2 linked regions of the Homo sapiens genome follow. The protein of the gene in region 1 interacts with the protein of each later gene in a biochemical or structural test. Each region holds a gene or a part of one and is shown on either strand. Other genes may lie near its edges.

Region 1 (4,023 bases):
CCATAAAACCAAAATTTGTCCTAAAATGTATTTAAATACTGGTATTTTCTAAGCATCTCTATAAAATAGCTAGTAAAAGCACAGAAGACAGATTACTAGTCTAGCAATTCTAAAAGAGCTGGCCTAAGAGAAAATATTTATTTCTCAAAAATATGCCTATTTTCCTTAGCAATATCTAATATCTGTTCAAAGAAATGGGGCCAGGCGTGGTGGCTCACACTTGTAATCCCGGCACTTTGGGAGGCCGAGGCAAGTGGATCATGAGGTCAGGAGATTTAGACCATCCTGGCTAACACGGGGAAACCCCATCTCTACTAAAAATACAAAAAAAAAAAAAAATTAGCCGGGCATGGTGGTGGGCGCCTGTAGTCCCAGCTACTCGGGAGGCTGAGGCAGGAGAATGGCATGAACCCAGGAGGCGCAGCTTGCAGTGAGCCGAGACTGCGCCACTGCACTCCAGCCTGGGAGACAGCGAGACTCCATCTCAAAAAAAAAAAAAAGAAATGGGCCAGGCACAGTGACTCATGTCTGTAATCCCAGCACTTTGGGAGGCTGAAGCAGAAGGATCACTGGAGCCCAGGAGTTCGAGACCAGCCTGGGCAACACAGTGAACACAGTGAGACCTCGTCTCTACAAAACAACAACAAAAATTAGCCAGCACGTGCATCTGTGGTCCTAGCTACGCAAGAGCCTGAGGCAGGAGGATCACTTGAGCCCAGGAGTTCAAGGCTACAGTCAGCTACGACTGCACGACAGCACTCCAGCCTTGGTGATAGAGTGAGACAGTCTCAAGTGAAAAAAATGAAAAAAGAAATTTATCAACTGTTTGGAAAAGCAGTACATTTCTTAGAAAAAATACATTAGAAGTATTTACATCTAACCACCTATTTCATATAACATTACTGTATTTCAGGCTTTCAAAGCAATTACTAAAAACTTCGTTTTTTAAGAAAAGTAAATAAACTTGCGTTTTTAAAGGAATTTGGTCTGCTTTTAAAATCAGTGGAGCATCTTTACCAATTAAAGGCATTTTTAATTGAATATAATTTTGTGTATTATGTGACCAACTCTGTACAAGGCACTGGACAGAATGATGATCCTTTTGCAGCTAGTAATTTATGAGGCATATTAGTATCACTTACAGTGACTTTACATATGTAAGAACAAAGGGGTAGAAACACAGCTGAGGAGTACACCGAGTGATTAAGAGAAGGCTTCAAGGAGGAAAGCTATTTGAGTTGGGTATTGAAGTATGAGTTTTACAGGTTTGTAAGGATAAGGGAAAAGGGGGAGGGAAGAATGGCACAGCAACACCATTCTAAAGTGAATGTAGAACAAAGAAAATGAGACATGAAAGGACTTAAGTACCAGAAAATACGAGTTCAATGCTACAGAAGTATATAGCTTAAATGCAACTGGAAAAAAGAAATGGTGGCAGGTATAAAGACTACAGACTTCAGGGTCTGAATGTAAATGTCTTTACATGACAAACTAAGGAATTAAAATTGGATCTAAGTCTCAAGTATGAATCATGCAAGGAGAGAAGAGAAAGAGATGAGATTGGATCTGATAGTATAAGCCATAGCAAACGTATAGCTTTCCAAAAAGAGATATGACATGATTGATTTTATAGGAAAATGACACTAGCAGCAATTTGGATCTTGGACTATAGTGAGAGACCAACCAGCTACTATCCAAATCAGAAATAATGGCCAAAAGTGTTGACAGTGAGGATGAAGAAAAAAACAGATGAAAAGCAGCAGCATGGCCAGGTAAGGTGGCTCACGCCTATAATCCCAGCACTTTGGGAGGCCGAGGCAGGTGGATCACCTGAGGTTGGGAGTTCGAGACCAGCCTAACCAACATGGAGAAACCCCATCTCTATTAAAAATACAAAATCAGCCAGGCGTGGTGGTGCATGCCTGTAATCCCAGCTACTCAGGAGGCTGAGGCAGGACAATCGCTGGAACCCAAGAGGCGGAGGTTGCAGTGAGCTGAGATCGCACAATTGCACTCCAGCCTGGGCAACAAGAGCAAACTCCATCTCAAAAAAAAAAAAGAAAAGAAAAAAGAAAAGCAGCAGCTACATGTAGTAGAATCTACAGTCCTGCACTCCCACTTTGTAAATGTCCTGTATATGTGATAATTTCCCTTTTCCATATTTTTTTTTGGTATAAATGCACTTTTGGCATGCAAAAAGGTTTATACAGTAAGTTATCAAGACTGGAGGTAAGATGGCCTTTTTTTGTTTTTCCTCCCATGGTATTAGGAAGGAAAATGCAAGAACTCTTGAGTTAGATGTGGATTACAGGCTATCTCTGCTGTGACACTATGAGCATGACAGTTAACCTCTCAAAGCTCTAGGTTTCTCATTTGTAAAAAGAGGAAATTGAACTAGATGATCTAAAACTTTGGAAAGTTCTAATCCTCTGATGATACTGACAAATCTTTAATCTTCTGTAAGTGTCCAACAAAAATGCAAATACAATAATCTAACTACAAACCGATTGTGAAAAACCCATCAAACACAGGCAAATACTATTGTACCTATTAGCTATATGCATCTACATGTACTCATTGTGAAGAATTTCATGACATACATTAAGTTATGTAGTCATCAACCACTCATTTGAAACCCTGACAAAACAAACTCTGTAAGCTGTGTCAGCCATGCAAGGCACCACGCTCGGCTAATTTTTGTATTTTTAGAAGAGACGGGGTTTCGTCTTGTTGGCCAGGCTGGTCTCCTGGTCTCAGGTGATCCACCTGCCTCGGCTTCCCAAAGTGCTGGGATTAAAGGTGTGAGCCACGGCGCCCGGCCAACAAAAGAACTTTTTAACAATATTCCTTTATCGATCAAATTTTTAAATGTTTCTAACTGGAAAAATGCAGTCTTGAAATTTGTAACCATAAATTGTCATGTGCGACTTCTTAATAATGAAGAAAATTTATTTTATGAATTCTTGCTTGTATTAAAAAGTTCAGAAATATTCTGAACTTGTTTCTCTTCAAGAGTAACATTTGGCTGGGTGTGGTGGCATGAGCCTGTAATGCCAGCACTTTGGGAAGCCAGGAGTTCAAGACCAACCTGAACAACACAGCAAGACCCTGTCTGTAAAACGAAAAAACAAAAAAAGAACAACTTTTAAACCGGATTTTTTTTTTTTTTTAAAGTAAAAGAGAGTTGGAGGTCCAGCATGATGGCTCACACTTGTAATCCCAGCATTTTGGGAGGCTGAGACAGGAAGATCACTTGAGCCCAGGAGTTCAAGACTAGCTCTGGCAACACAGCAAGACCCGGTCTCTACAAAAAATATTCAAAAGTATAAATATTAAATAAAAAGGAGAGTTGGGTCAAAAGCCTCTCTTCCTGCAAAACAAAAAGGTGAACAAATAACTTTTTTTTTTTTTTGAGACAGAGTCTCGCTCTGTCGCCCTGGCTGGAGTGCAGTGGCGGGATCTCGGCTCACTGCAAGCTCCACCTCCCGGGTTCACGCCATTGTCCTGCCTCAGCCTCCCGAGCAGCTGGGACTACAAGTACCCGCCACCATGCCCGGCTAATTCCTTTTGTATTTTTAATAGAGACGGGGTTTCACCATGTTCACCAGGATGGTCTCGATCTCCTGACCTCGTGATCCACCCGCCTCGGCCTCCCAAAGTGCTGGGATTACAGGCGTGAGCCACCGCACCCGACCCAGAGAATATTTTTAATTAAAGGTGAAAAACTCAGATGTAAATCTTGCATTTCCAGCCTCTTATAAATTTGTGATATAATTAATATTGCCTAAAGTCATACTTCAAGGGAAATAACATTTTGCTAACTGTAGTATTAAACTTTTCTAATGATATTTTATTTCTTCTAATGTTTCTTCTAAAGACCTGAACAATGTTTTGGTTATATACTACATTATATATACCAGAATCATTTATCTTTAATGTAACCTATGTGATTTCTGGCTCCCTAAAATAGCATTATGCATTTTCTGAGTTAACCAAAATAAAATCTAGAAAGAGCTAAACTGT
Region 2 (3,434 bases), on another chromosome or scaffold:
CAAGTCTTTGGCACAAAAGTCCATGCTCTTAATCACTATGACATGTTCCTTCTCTTCTACAGGTGATGAGAATGGGACAGTCTCCCTTGTGGACACCAAGAGTACAAGCTGTGTCCTGAGCTCAGCTGTACACTCCCAGTGTGTCACTGGGCTGGTGTTCTCCCCACACAGGTACTGTTCTTTGTCATCAGGGGCCTGATGGGTATAAATGGGAACCGTGAGGGTGTGTGTGTATGTTTTCAAAGCATTAGCTGATGAAGTAGTTCCTTAAAGCAGACAGTGTTCTAGCTGAGGTTTCGGAACATCGAAGATCTCTTAAGTGTGAAGTAGAATCCTTTGGGAGTCAAAGGATTTTTCAGATTAGATGGTTTCTGTCTGAAATGGCTAAAATGTGATTTCATTCCTGCCCAACACCCAAAATGGTTAATGTTGTGGGCTTCTAGGACTGTGAGATTGGAAAAGCCTGTGTTTCTGGGTTATTGCTGAAGCTATAGAGAGGGACCAGATGGGGTGGTTAGTTGCCAGGATGGTTGTCAACCCTAACTTTGCTTCATTTCCCTCATCTTTACTTGAAACTTTTAGTGTGGACTTGTAGTAGCCAGATTAGCCAAAAGTGGGAATCAGGCTGCCTCTCCTGGGTCACTTTACAGTGGCGGCAGGGCCGGCCCAGTTAAGGTTTTGTCTTGGGATCCAGGCTGGACCTTTCACAACCCTCTCCTCCATCTGATAGTGTTCCCTTCCTGGCCTCTCTCAGTGAAGACTGCTCACTTGCTGTGCTGGACTCAAGCCTTTCTGAGTTGTAAGTGTGAAGTGGAATCCTTTGGGAATCAGGGAAGGGGAGCAGTGGGTGGGCGAGTCATTTTCCTCTTCAGAAAACTGTGTTGTGCTTTTGGAGAACAGATTCTCCATCTGTATCCGAAGGGACTTGGTAATGGAAGCAGGCTGGCTGTTGACCCTGTCCATTCCTGGGGCACATTCACAACCCCAAGGACAAGCCGTGTCCTTGGTAGAGGGGGGTGGTAGGTGAAATTTTTAAGTCTAGCCCTCCAGCGCTCTCCCACAAGGGGGCGGCAGTCTACCCTCTCACATAAAGAACTGCGTATGAAATGCAGCCTGCTACAGGGTAAAAGGCAGCACCTGGAAGACCTGAATTGTACTTCCCTCCTTGCCGTGATTTGCTGCCTGTTACTGCCCCTCATCACTGTCTTGTTCTATCCAGCATTTCTTCATCTATGAAAATAGAAGACTGGATTGGATGACTGATGACATCCACTGTGGATAGCTACACTGCTATCCTGGCGATGAGGCCATACAGTTGGTGAAATGTGTGTAACACACCCAAAAAATGTGCCCCAGATGTGTTGGGTTCTCTTTTTTTCTCCAGGTCTGCTTTTCTTGTCTCTACTCTGCCCCGACTTTTTTTCTTTCTTCTAGGTTTAGAAGCCAAGCCCACAGAGACTTTGTGAGAGATGCGACTTGGTCCCCGCTCAATCACTCCCTGCTTACCACAGTGGGCTGGGACCATCAGGTCGTCCACCACGTTGTGCCCACAGAACCTCTCCCAGCCCCTGGACCTGCAAGTGTTACTGAGTAGATTGGATTTAAGACAAAAAGCAAGTCCCCCATGAGTGTCCACTTCTTTGCCCTGCCCTCTCAGCTTGTGAGACAACACAGGAGCCTTCTATAGTATGTTGATATGCTAGATCTGTGCCGTTAATAGGCATCGTCTCTCAGCCTGAGGGAGGCTGGATTCTGGGTTCCTGTAGTCACAGGGAGGAAAAGCTTTCTTAAAAATGGACATGTATGTGCGTGTGAGTGTGTGTGTAGATTTATAGTTTTTGGTAGTGGCAGGAATAAAAAAAATCCATCCTACATCTTCCCTAAGCACTGCCTCTCTCTCACCCCCCAAAACAAGTTGACGAAAGGGTTTTATGTAGCTGTCTATGAGGAATTGGCCGTGTCTGGGTGGGTTATGGGATGTGGGCATCCCTGGGTTCTTGGAAGCAGCTCTTATGCTACTCATAGAGATGGGATTGACTTTATTTTTTTATAGTGCTTAATTCACCATTATGAGAAATGCTTCCAGTCACAAAAATGCAGCCCAGCTCACTCTGAGGAAGAAGCAGGACTTGGTACGGTTTTACACAACTCCTTACCATTAAACTGAATCAGAAATCCATTTTCTGGCTGAATAAAAAGTTTGGCTTGCCTGTGTAATGCCCACTCCCTTCCCCCTGGCTCCCTAGTGATGGGACATATATGAGAGAGAAGTGTTTTTCTATCATAGACACCATAGGGGAAAGTTTGGGGATGAAGGAGAGCTTAAAGGTGTTTCAATTAAGTTAGAAAACTGACACAGGCTGTTGAGAATTCTTTGCCACTTTTCCCACCCCAAAACAGCATGGGGCCTGACATCTTCTGCCCTGGTCCCCTTTCTCTTGATGTGGAAAGTCTGAATGCAGTATTTATAGACTTCTAAGGTTTTAAAATCCAGTATCAAGAAGAAAATCAGAAATACTGGTTGGTGAAATAAAGAGTTTAGGCATTGTTGGCCTGTCTTTTTTGAAGCATGTGTGTTATGTGTAGTTAGATATATTTCACTTATGTGAGTCATCATGGTGTTGGTCTTGTAGCCCATTATTTTTCCTGTGCTTCCCCAGCTTCCCAAAGTAGCTAGTTAGAACTTAAGGTAAATATTTATTCTTGGGTTGGTGGAGTGGATATTGCCAGTTAGGAGTCATGGATCAATTACTGATTATATTGAAAGTAAATATAATCAATTATGTACTTTTGAGCTTTGCAGGTTCAATTTAGGTAAAAATCACATTATGAAACTGGGAAAGTCTGAAGGAATATGGGCAAAATATTTCTCAGTAAAGCTTCCATGCTTCACCCTTGACATGATTACCCTTGAGTAAAACATGGGAATTTGTAGTTGTGTGATCCTCTGGCGTTGATGTGGAGTAGGAATAAAGTCTTGCATCATTTTTATAATGTGGGAGGAAATAGAATGGGTAGGTACAATCACTTAAGTTCTGCCTCTCGAAGATAAAACTTTAATTTTGTGGACACTTAGAGAAAGTAAGGGGTGGGGGAGCTTGAGGTGAGTAGGAATTTGCATAGCCCTTTTCTTCCTGGACTTAAGAATGATGGAGAAAAAACTCAGTGAAAGAGATAAGGAAGCAAATGTGTGGAAATGTGTGATAAGGAAGGAAATGTGTCAAGGTGGTTACAATATGGAAGGGAAGCATAGGTTTTTTTTTTCTTTTGTTGAGATGGAGTTTCACTCTTGCTGCCCAGGCTAGTGTGCAGTGGCATGATCTTGGCTCACTGCAACCTTCGCCTCCTGGGTTCAAGCAATTCTCCTGTCTCAGCCTCTTGAGTAGCTGGGATTACAGGCTAATTTTTGTGTGTTTAGTAGAGACAGGGTTTCA

Evidence for each region.
Region 2: the proteins of CDK19 (region 1) and WDR77 form a complex in vitro, tested with the Homo sapiens proteins (one study listed by BioGRID).

The regions. Positions count from the first base shown.
Region 1 is NC_000006.12:110,808,727-110,812,749, forward strand, and holds part of CDK19 (cyclin-dependent kinase 19), read right to left. Parts: intron 1-4,023.
Region 2 is NC_000001.11:111,439,390-111,442,823, reverse strand, and holds the end of WDR77 (methylosome protein WDR77), read left to right. Parts: intron 1-62; coding exon 63-171; intron 172-694; coding exon of another isoform or gene 695-730; coding exon 731-799; intron 800-1,434; coding exon 1,435-1,594; 3' UTR 1,595-2,934; downstream 2,935-3,434. UniProt on the Homo sapiens protein: Non-catalytic component of the methylosome complex, composed of PRMT5, WDR77 and CLNS1A, which modifies specific arginines to dimethylarginines in several spliceosomal Sm proteins and histones.